Linked DNA regions of Homo sapiens: region 2 is linked to region 1. Evidence: fine-mapped expression QTL. A gene starts in region 1. The other region holds a variant in brackets. All regions are shown on one strand. Distances are between the middles of the regions.

The links. PIP is the estimated chance that this variant, and not a neighbour inherited with it, causes the effect. A credible set is the group of variants that fine-mapping cannot tell apart.
Region 2: its variant is the best candidate, but not a certain one, in a credible set for the expression of MYBPH in whole blood (TOPMed, PIP 0.66).

What each region holds. Positions count from the first base shown.
Region 1 is chr1:203,173,668-203,179,036 of GRCh38, forward strand. It overlaps MYBPH (myosin binding protein H), which reads right to left and starts at 2,159. Exons shown (of 11, transcript NM_004997.3): 1 at 1,884-2,159; 2 at 1,660-1,794; 3 at 763-930. The coding sequence starts at 2,088. CHI3L1 (chitinase 3 like 1) reads right to left here. Exons shown (of 10, transcript NM_001276.4): 10 at 5,264-5,369. RefSeq lists enhancers at 294-823, 3,741-4,940.
Region 2 is chr1:203,218,983-203,224,351 of GRCh38, forward strand. CHIT1 (chitinase 1) reads right to left here. Exons shown (of 11, transcript NM_003465.3): 5 at 4,513-4,678; 6 at 4,153-4,277; 7 at 3,220-3,343; 8 at 682-867; 9 at 234-347. Among named protein-coding and RNA genes, the nearest start is that of CHIT1, 8.0 kb to the right of the region's middle. The variant C/G (reference allele first, on the strand shown) is at 3,152.

The DNA.
Region 1 (5,369 bases):
CATCCCCTAGTGGAGGAGCAAGAAGGAAGGTGGAGAAGGCTTCAGGCCACCTGCCTGCCTGTGTCTCTCCTCACCCTGGGGGACTGTGCTGTCCCCAGAGACCTCAGATCAGACCAAATGACTCACTGTCATTAACAGACTGAAACCCGATCAGCTCCGGGAGGGGAGCGAGGGGAGGATTGAGGCTAATGCACCTTGCAAATAGAAATATTAGCAATGGGGATGGCAGCTGGCCTGCGGGGCCCCAGTGAGGTATGCCCTCTGCAATGGAGAAGTCTTCATGGGCCTTTTGCAGACCTTCTTTTTCTTTCCACTAGGGCCATGGTGGAACAAGGGGCAAGCAGCGCCTTCTCTCTGTTTCAAGACCTTTGAGAGAATCTGGAACCCAGGCCACAGGAAATGGGCAGAAAATGAGCATTTATGGCCACTGGAGAGATTGAGATTAGATGGGAGATAGAACAGATGGACTCTTAGCATTGAGCAGGTGACCCAGGGAACTTGACCTTTTGTTTCTGAGCCCCTTTCTCAAGGCGTGGGGGCTGGACCACTCAGGGAAATGGCTTCTTAGACCTCCAGAGGCCCCTTACTGCTGAGGAACCTGGAACTTTCTTAAGGCAAGATGGTGATAGCGTGTGGCTTGTGCATGTGAGCGTGGGACGGGGGAAATGACTGCCTGGTTCCCTCTACCTGCTGGCCTCAGTTTCTCCATTAGATAAGGTGTTTGGGAAGGGCTGGGTAGCTGAAGGCCAGGATGGGCTTTACCAATGTTCTCTCGGATGTGGATGGGCTGGTCCAGCATGGCCGGCGGGCCAGCCCCTGCAGAACTCACTGCAGACACGCGCAGGAGGAACTTGTCTCCCAGAGCCAGGTTCCGCACAGTCTGCTGGGTCACCATCATGGGCCGGGCACTCACAGGCACCCACTCCGAGGCTGAGGGGATGGAGAGAGTGTGAGGTCTTTGCAATGTGGCCACAGGCGCCCCTCTCCATGGGGCTTCTTTTCCTGCTGGTGATCTGGGGAAATCAGCCTCCCTCTCTGGGCCTCATTTTCCCCTTGTTTGCCTTCCCTGACTTCTTGTCAAATGGCATCAAAGACACCTGATGTTAGAGCCCTGAAATTGTGGCTAGAGATGAGGTTGTTGAAGCCCAGAGAGGGTTGGACACATTTGCAAAGTCACACAGCAAGGTAGGGGCAGAGGCAGAGGCCAGGCTGGACTTGGGCCATGGAGGGGGACAGTGGCAGCAGGGATGTGGCCCCCACACCCCCACCCCATTCCCGCTTTCTCCTCACTGTCTCTTACGCTAACATTCCCCTCTCCAGCTCCTCCCTTTCCACTTCCTACAGTTCGGGGTCCTCTGAGACTTAGCACTTCCTTCCCTTCTCACCAAAGGAGAACCCAGTGTCCCCTTACCCTTCCCTTACTCAGAAGCTCCTTGGAGCTGAGGACAAGGGAGCCCCTCAACCCACCCACCTACCCTTTCTTGCTCTCCTGCTGGTGGAGCAAGAAAGGGCAGGTGGGTGGGTTGAGGAGCCTACTGCTCGCATCCCCTCCTTCTGTATCTCTCCCAGACTGACCAACCACAGGGCCTGTGCACTTGTCCCTGCAGCCCTCCATGACAACCTCCCCTGGGTGTATGCAAGACTTAGCCCAGCACTCACCTCCCTCTCTGCAGAGCTCCAGCACATAGCCCTGGAGGCCCAGCCTCCCCAGCCTCTCTGGGGGCTCCCAGCTCACAGTCACAGAGCTGCTGCTCACATCATCCAGGGTCAGCAGCAGTGGGGCACTGGGGACATCTGGGGAGATGAAGAGGTTCATGGCCAAGAGCTCCCCTCCACCCCTGACATGCCTGCCTCCCTCCTCCCCCTGCCCCACCTTCAGTCACCTTCACTTGGGGGTGCAGGCTTAGTGGCTGTGGAGGCTGTAGGGGCCTGTGGGGCAGGGGCCTGCGGCTTGGGCACCTGCTCTTCTCTGGTGGACTCTGATACTGCCACTTCTCCGGGAGGCTCTGCTGTGGGCACCTTGGCAGATTCAGATGCGGTCTCCTCTGGACTGCAGGCAGGGCCCTCGGAGGTGTTTTTTTCCATCATTGCTGGACTGGCTGGGGGGCCAGGGTGGAGTGTGCAGGGGTCAGCCGTTGGGGGGCCTGGGCCTCTAGGGTGCCTGGGACACCTAGGTCCAGGCTTATATAGTCAGGGGCTGCCCCACCCCCAGCAAACGATTCCCAGCTGTGGGGTCAGGTCAAGCAGGAGGACTGGAGGGTGGAGAGGCGCCCAGGCCAGGAATAGCTCTGGGGGAGGAACCACAAGGGCCCCTTGAGGAGTCACTTCCTCATCCATCTCCCCGACTGGCCTTCAACAGCCAGGGTGCTGGTGCCCAGCTGGGGGAGGGCGCAGATGGGTGAGATGGGACATCGAGCAGGCCGCGTGCCAGGTGTCAGGGCAATAGGAGGAAGAACTTCTATCTGGAGAATGAGCCCAGCTCAGGCTCTGTGTGTCTGGCGTCTATGGGGCCACTTGTTCCCAGAGCTTCTCAGACTGGGTGCTGGGGCCCTGACAGTTTGGGACAATCGTCCTTGTGAGCACTCCCAGCTTTGCCTCTGGGGTCCACATTCCCTGGGCTCCCACAGTTCCCAGGGACTCTCGCCTGTGCTGTATGAGGCTGAGGGCCCTAGAGAGGGAGGGAATTGAGATGCTGAGGGTGGAGCTGCTCAGAGGATGGTCCTCCAGCATTGGAACCCCAGGAAGGGGCACTAAGTCTCCTGGCTCCTGTCTCAGTTGGGCGGCTGGTAAGGAGCTCGTCTCCCCTGATGCCTGCTGTGGGCCTCAGTTTTCCACCTGTTACAGAGAACCCCTCGCCCTTCGGGATGGGTTGCAGTTGTAGGCAGATCTGGAAGATGCCCTAGTGGAGGAGAGCACTCTGAAGCTTCTAGACTCTTCCAAGCAGGCTGTGGGCATGGGCTTTCTCAGTGTGCCAAAGGAGGCAGATATGGCCAGATTTCTAGTCATTGATTCATTTGTTCGATAAAATGTTAAGACTGGGAATCACTGGAAAGCCAGAAAATGCCATGTGTCAGGAAGGAGGGAGAACATTAAGAACTTTTATTGCTGGTATTGGAGCAGTCACTCTGGAAAATGTGAGAGTTTTACTAGTGCCTAGTAAAATGGATGAGGTGCCTACTCCGTGACCCAGCCGTGCCGCTCATATAACACCCACACATGCCCCAGGAGACATGGAGAAGAAGGTTCATGGCAATGTTATTTGTAATTGTTGAAATGTGGGGGAAAACAGCTGTCCCTCAACAGTGGGATGGATAAATAACTGTGGAGTGTTTATGCAACTGTAAAGCAAAATATGGGGTCAAATGAGCAACTTCAGCTACTCACAGACCCAGTGATGAGCAGAAGAGCAAGGCACACAGAAATGTTGCGTCTCATCTGTCTCATCTACATTAAATCCAAATGCAGTCAACACCAGGCTCCCTTCTTCAAGGTACATCCGTAGGCGGTAAGGCCAGAAAGGAAGATGAGGCCAGTACAAAAGTTAGGATGGCGATTGCCTCTAGGTGGAGGAACAGGGATATCTGTGATCGTGAGGGCTGCAGGGGTGCTAATGAGGTTTCCTTTCCTGACCTGGGTGGTGGTTACACAGGTTCTTACTACATAGTTATTCTTCAAATTAAACAAATACATTTATGCACTCTTTAGCACGTAAGATGTGCTCACAATTTAAAAATAAGTAAAAGTGATTTATTCAGGGCCCTCAGCAGCATGCATGCTCTTCCCTTTCCTGAGGACTGGGGACACCAGGGTGTGGCTGCCTCTCAACCCTGCTGTCTCTGCTGGGGAGTGGCAGTGCAGGGCCTGGGAGCCTCTGGATCTGGCCCTCCCTGGATGCCCTCGCCCTCTGCTAGGTGACTCCACGTCTTGCCAGGCAGGGAGTGGGTCCTGGAGACTGGATCTCCATCCTTGGCCTCTGACTCTGCAGCTATAAGTGAATGTGACTAACCCCACAGGACACTGAGTCAGCCCTGGAGAGCCTGTCCCCGGCTGGGGGAAGGGTGGCCCCAGGGGAGGGCAGTTGGCTGCCCACAAGGGCTTGCAGCCCTGGGGTTTCAAAGATGCCTGTGTGGTGGGGTGGGCAGTGGCAGGGATTAGGGAATACTTGGCCCCACCAGCCAGAGGTGAAATGCCGGGTACCCCCTCCCCACACCCCACTCCACGCCTTGCCGAGTCCTTGTTTTCTTCGCCTTCAGCAGGGCTGTGACCTTGGGATCAGTAGCATCTGCCCAGCTCCAGCTGGTTCAGATTTCAGATATTTCCTCCTTCCCTCCACTTCAAACCGGCGTCACAAACCATCAGGCCAATTTGTGATTATCCTAAGTCACAGATAATCCAAACATCAGAGAATCCACAAATCAATTCTCTTTAGTTCTGGGGTGAGTATCTGGAGCCTTTTTGGATAAAGGCATTCCTGGGGCCCTGGGAATTCAACAGAAGCCTGATGAGAGCGTCTCCACCTCATAAAGGCTGAAAATCTGTCTATTCTTCTGAGTCACCCCATCACATCCTCCCGACCTCCTATCTCAGGCCAGCTTGAGCAGAGGTACTTTGATCTCTGAATGGGTGGAGGGATGAGTGTTAGGGGAGGGGTGAACAGAACAAAGGGCTAAGCCCAGCACTAGGACTATTGACAGATTTCAGCCCAGCCACGGAATGGGTTGCTTCCAAGGTAATCGGCTGCCCCTCACTGGGAGGCTGGAGGGCCATCTCTCAAGCACTCTGCAGGGACTCCAGTCCCGAGAGGCAGGAAGGGTGCATGAGATGACATCTGCATTTCCTGCTGGCCCTGAGGGTCCAGGGTTCAGGGCTTTCTAACCTGGTCCTGTGATGAGCTCCCACCACCTTCCTGTGGATCAGAAGAGAGGGAGTGTTGGGATGAAAAGCCTTCTTTCCCAGGGCCTGCTAGCCTTCAGGAAACAGAAAACGTTTCTTTCAACAGGGAATTTAATTTAGAAATCTGGATGGCAATGACTTTAATATTTGGAAGGCCATCAGCCATGCTTGGGTTAAGTCCAAGGCAGGTGAATCTGAGGACGCTGGCCTCCCACTGGGGCTCTCTGCGGCTAGGCAGAGGACATGGCGGCCTCATCTCTGCAAGCTCAGGGGTCCCAAGGCTCAGAGGAAGGAACCCAGAAGAGATGGGGGAGGTGAGTCCAGTGGGTCTAGTGGGCGCTCAAAGATAGACCAAAGCAAAGCGCCAACACACTGTTAAGCTCTTGTACTTTATTGAGCAGCTGTGGAATTAGGAAGGGGAAGTAGGATAGGGGACACGATTACGTTCCTAAGTGAAGGTTTCAAGCTGGGCTTTG
Region 2 (5,369 bases), 45 kb after region 1:
ATAAAATAGAAATACTTTCCAGAGTGCTACTAAATGTAGAGCAATTTTTTGTCATTTTGTCTTTTCTGAGTCAATAGGTAGTAAAGGTACAAAATACTATCACGTGGAGATTTATGAAATGTTGGGACATTTAAAGGAGACTCACCCTTGAGGTCCTGAACTGTCCTCATTCCATGTCATTGACAGGACTTGTTCACTAGGACCACCCCTCTGCCAGCAGAGCTGGGCCTCACCTTGGTTTTGAAGCTCTCCACATCATCAAAGCCCACCCACTGGTTGTCCCGGAAGATGTAGGGCACCTTCTGATCCTGGATTCTCTGTTTGGTGGCCCCCTTCCAGGAGCAGACCTGTGGGAGCAGAAGGCAGCACTGGGGAGGAGGAGGGAGGCTCTTGCAGGCACCTTCCCTTCCTCACCAGGAGGAGACTAGAGATTGGAAAATTCCTGTCTGAGGAAGCCTGGAGAATCAGGAGGTTCTTTGCAGTGACCTAGAATTCTGGACTCAGCTTGAGGCACCTGGGCTTAAGGATAAATTCAAGATGGCATGGATGAGATGGAATTTACATGGCCAGAATTCTCTGCAATTGGCATCCTTACTCAGAAACGGTGGGAGAAGGAAACCTCTGTTCTCTCAGGCACCCCCTGACCCTCACAATACCCAGGGTGGTTATGGGTTTTCCTACTTCATAGTAGGCCAGCATCCCTCCTTCCTTGGTGAAGGGGCCTGGAGTGCCAGACCCTGTGGCTGGGGCCCCCACTCTGGTGTCTGATGAGGAGGCCAGTGTGAAGGAGCGTCCGTAGGTAGGCATGCCAAGGATCAGCTTGCTGGCAGGGGTCCCCTTCTGCAGCCACTGTTGCACAGCAGCATCCTGGTGGAAGAGGGCAGGGTTAATTTTCTCAGCCCTCAGCCTGGTTCTGATTATCTAAGTCTGGGGGATCCAGAGGCAGAGCTAGGAGGGCAGGGGCTCCTCAGCTGGAGCTCTACGGGCCTTTGTTAGGATTCCAGCCCTACCCCATCTTCTTTAGAGCCTGCCTTAGACCCGTGACCCCAGTGAAGAAGCTGCATGGCATGATAACCAGAGAGCGTGGGCTTCGGACGCAGACAACCATTCACTGAACAAATGTGTACTGATGGCCCACTGTGTGCCAGGCGCTGTCCATGGTGCTTCAGACACATCAGTGAACAAGGCAGACACAGATCCCTGCCTTACCCAGCAGCTTATTTAACCTCACTGAACCTTGGTGTTCTGTCTGTAACATGGAAATAAGGAAAATATCCATCTCTTAGGGCATTGTGAGAATTAAAGGTTATAATGCATGTAAAAGGTCAGCACAACGCAATAAAGGGTCGCTGTGGTCATCATCGTTATCATGATTGTTGTCTTAGTTTTACCCTGAGTACAAAAGCAGGGAATTGGGTCTGCTTTATTTATCTCTGTATCCTCAGTGTCTAGAATGACACCTGATGCTCAGATAGAACAAAGGCTTCCTTACCCACCTTTGAATAAGGCCTTCCCCTGATTATATATTACTTGGTGTAACACCCCCAGGCCTGTGACGGGAGAAGGTACCCGGTACAAGTATGATAAATTAATGAATAATGAAGCCTCATTCCTTAAGCCAAGAGTATGGTTCACTTTCCCCCAGAAGCTGCCCTAGTTTTGTCAGGTCTAGTTACTCTGAGCCCACTTAGCACTTAGGTAAAGAACAGCTTTCACTACATTTATTTAAATATATTTCTTTTTGTCCATCTATACAACTTATCTTTGATCAGATGGGTGCTTTCTGAAGGCAGAAGTCGGGGCTTCTCCTGATCTGTTATAGCACTTTTGTGCAAGTTGGGAAAAGTCACCCATCTGGTTAGAACCTGTCCCCGGGCACACTGTGTGGTGAGTAGAAGGCCTCTTTGTAGGAATAAGATGGCCTCCATTCCTCGGTGGATTCAAGGTACACAATGTGGAAAGCAGGGTGCTGGAGGGACTCCCACCCCACTCACCTCTCAGCTAAATTTCTTTCTGTGTCTCCCCACCAGCACAGGGATACAGCTTCCTCCAAAACTCACACAGTCTTCCAGACAGGGATGGAGAGGCCAGGCTCAGTGTGAAATGTGGGTGCCTGGCTCACTGGCTCAAAGAGGTGCTCTTTATTCATGAAAGAGCCAGAAAATCAAAGATGTCCCACTCCAGCTGACATACAGAGATGTGGGCTCTCCAAAAGTAAAAAGCATTTTAATTTAGGGCTTTTTCTTTGTTGTTTGGTTTTGCTTGTTTTAAGAAAGAAAAATAATGTAGTTATTATAAGCCCTCTCTGCAGGGTTTTATAAACCCTCTCTATATTTTAAGATATATAGAGGGCTTATAAAAAGGATCTAGGCTGGGCATGTTGGCTTGTGCCTATAATTCCAACACTTTGGGAGGCTGAGCCAGGAGGATTGATTGAGGGCAGGAGTTTGAGACCATCCTGGGCAATATAGCAAGACTCCATCTCTACAAACTTAAAAAAAATTAGCTGGTCATAGTGATCCCAGTTACTCAGGAGGCTGGGGCAGGAGGATCGCTTAAGCCTGGGAGGATGAAGCTGCAGTGAGCTATGATCATGCCACTGCATACCCTCCTTGGTGACAGAACAAGATTCTGTCTCTTAAGAATAAATATATAAAATTAAAAAAAATTAAAAGTGTCTTGATTGCTCAATGAGGAAAAGTTAGGAAACCCCAACCTACCCTAGTCTAAAAACCAAGCCTGCCCTTTGCAGGTGCTGGGAGTACTTCCACCCTGAGTGACATCTGCAGAGATGTTATCAACTTGGGAAAGCTCCTGTCCCTGAAAGGACCTTCCAGAAGGTCAACCAGTGTGACCATGGAGCACAAGTCTGCCCACTGTCTTGAAGGAAATGGGGTGGGGGTGTGTGAGGGAAGCAGCAGGCCTGCTGGCTGGAGACTCAAGCTCAAAGTGGGCTTCCCCATTGGTCACTTGTTTGTCATCAAACTGATTTGCTGCCTCTACCATCAGCCAAGATGCTCCACAGAAGTGAGGTTTCCCCTCAGCAGGGGCACGGACCAGGAAAATAGAACAAAACAAGCAAGCAAAGAAACAAAAAAGCTTCTTGTTTCTCAGTGCCCTGTGTCTTTTTTCCCATGAGGGCCTCGGGGCT[C/G]AAAAGAAGCCACCAAACAGGGCCTGCTGGACAGGGGAGTCCTGCCTCAGCCCTCCTGCCACACGTACCACGTTGAGGCTGGCTGCTGCACCACTCTCTTCTTGCCTCTTGTAGAGGGGGCTGTTATGTCCCGTGACCTTCTCCCAAGAGCCATGGAAGTCGTAGGCCATAAGGTTGACAAAATCCAGGTTCCTGCAGGAGGCATGGAAGAGGAGGTGAGAAACAAGGGATTGGGGGTGGGGTAGCCCTTCTTTCTCACTCCTACCCCCTCAGTGCATGGCCTAGGGAGGAACCACTGGGGTCAGAGGCAAAGGTGGCAGGCTCACCTGGCTCTGCAGAAGGTGACCCAGACAGCAGTCCCAGCCAGCCCCCTTATGAAGGCCATTCTCATTCTCACTCAAACTTGTCACCCTCACCCCACTGTCCCCTCAGCACCCCCAGGCCCTCCCTATTCCACTCAAGAAAACTCCTGCTACATTGCTATTCTGGAGGGAACTCTAGCTTAGGGTTTCTCCCACTTCAGTGTGCACACAGATCACCTGGGAATCTCACTAAAATGAAGGTTCTTCAGAAGGCCTGGGGTGGGGCCTGAGAGTCCATAATTCTAATGAGCACCTGGTTTTAATGAGGGCTGCGAGTCCACATGCTGTACTTTGAGGAGCAAGGATCCAGAAAACCCATTTTCTTGAAGACAATGGCTTCACTACCCACTCAGAGGCATTTTCACCTTAAGAATGAGTTCCCGAGGAAGAGGACAGAGATCCAAAATGAAGGATCTGGAACAGGGCAGCAGTGGACACTGAGCAAAGCCTTTCTGGATGTGTCTTAGTTTTACCCTGAGTACAAAAGCAGGGAATTTTCTGCTTTTGTTCTGGTGTAAGGATGGGACTTTCCAAATGCCTTGTAGATGAACACCTGCTCTACCCATGGGAAAGCTCAGTCTGCCCTTGGCCTCTCTTCCCTCAGAGAGCACAGCTCCAAGCCATCTGCCTGAGACTCACTGGGCGATTTTGTCCACCTCGTATCCAGCATCCACATAGGTCTGCCCAGCTGGAACCGCTGCACTCAGAAGAAGGCGTTCCTTCCCTGAGGTCTGGGCTTCCTGCTGGAAGGCATTGGCCAAGTCCTGTGGGAGTGGAGCTCAGAGTCAACACAGGGGCGCGCACCAGGCAGGCAGCCCCTGTGAGCCCCAGGTAGATGTTCACTTGTAGAAGTCTGAGAGCTGGCCACAGGGCTGATCTGTGCCATGCAGATACGTGAAGCAGCTGGCTCTGGGGGCAGAGCAGCCCCCACATGTGCTGTGGGGGCTCCAGCTCTGGGTCCCTGCACAGACTGGTGATCCCCGCCCCGCCCAGCCATACCTGTACCAGGGTTGTGAAGCGCTCCTTGTCTACGGCAGGGCTCCCCTGGCTTCCTGGGTACTCCCAGTCAAGGTCAAGGCCGTCAAAGCTGTATTTGCGCAGAAACCTGATGGCCGAGTTGACAAAGGTCTGACGGTTGTTGGCCGTGGCTACCATATCTGTGAACCTGTGAGGTGATGAAGGGGAGTAAGGGCCGGCCTTGGACCAGACAGGAGGCCACTCTTACTCAGAAGCAGGCAAGAAAACACTCAGGACAGTGCGTCTCTGTGTCTGGGCTAGGAGGGGCACTGGGAGGGCTGCTTCAGAGGCTGCAGGGATATTTGCTGGTGAGTTATGGTCCGGGTTGAGGAAAGGGGACCATCCAGAGCACTTTCTACCCCCGAACATCGACATCACCAGGGGCACATGGACACCCTAGGAGCCTTTCCCAAAATTCCCTCCAGAGGCTTCCTCCAAGCCCTTGAATTGTCCCACCCCAAACCAGAACTAGTTGACACCCTCAGAATGGAGGTTTGAAAAGAAAAGGAATTAGTTTCTCTAATTCCTCTTGTAAGGTTTTTCTTTAAGTAAGATTTTTCTCTAATTAGAATTTCTCTAATTCCTTTACTAAGGTTAGTAAAGACCTGGGGAGCCCACTGTTTTAGTTTCCTGGCAGGTTAACCTGGTCATCTTTCTTTTAACTCACACCCGTAGAGCGCTTTGTGTTTTTGTTGCTGTTACTAGTCCAGAGTTCGTCAAAATCCCCAAGCTGCCCCAAGAACCACCTCTCCACATCTTCCTTCCTTAGTGGGAAGTCCCTGAACTTCTTGAGGGGGTCTCAAGTTCTTTACAGATTGATCCTATTTTATTTTTATTAA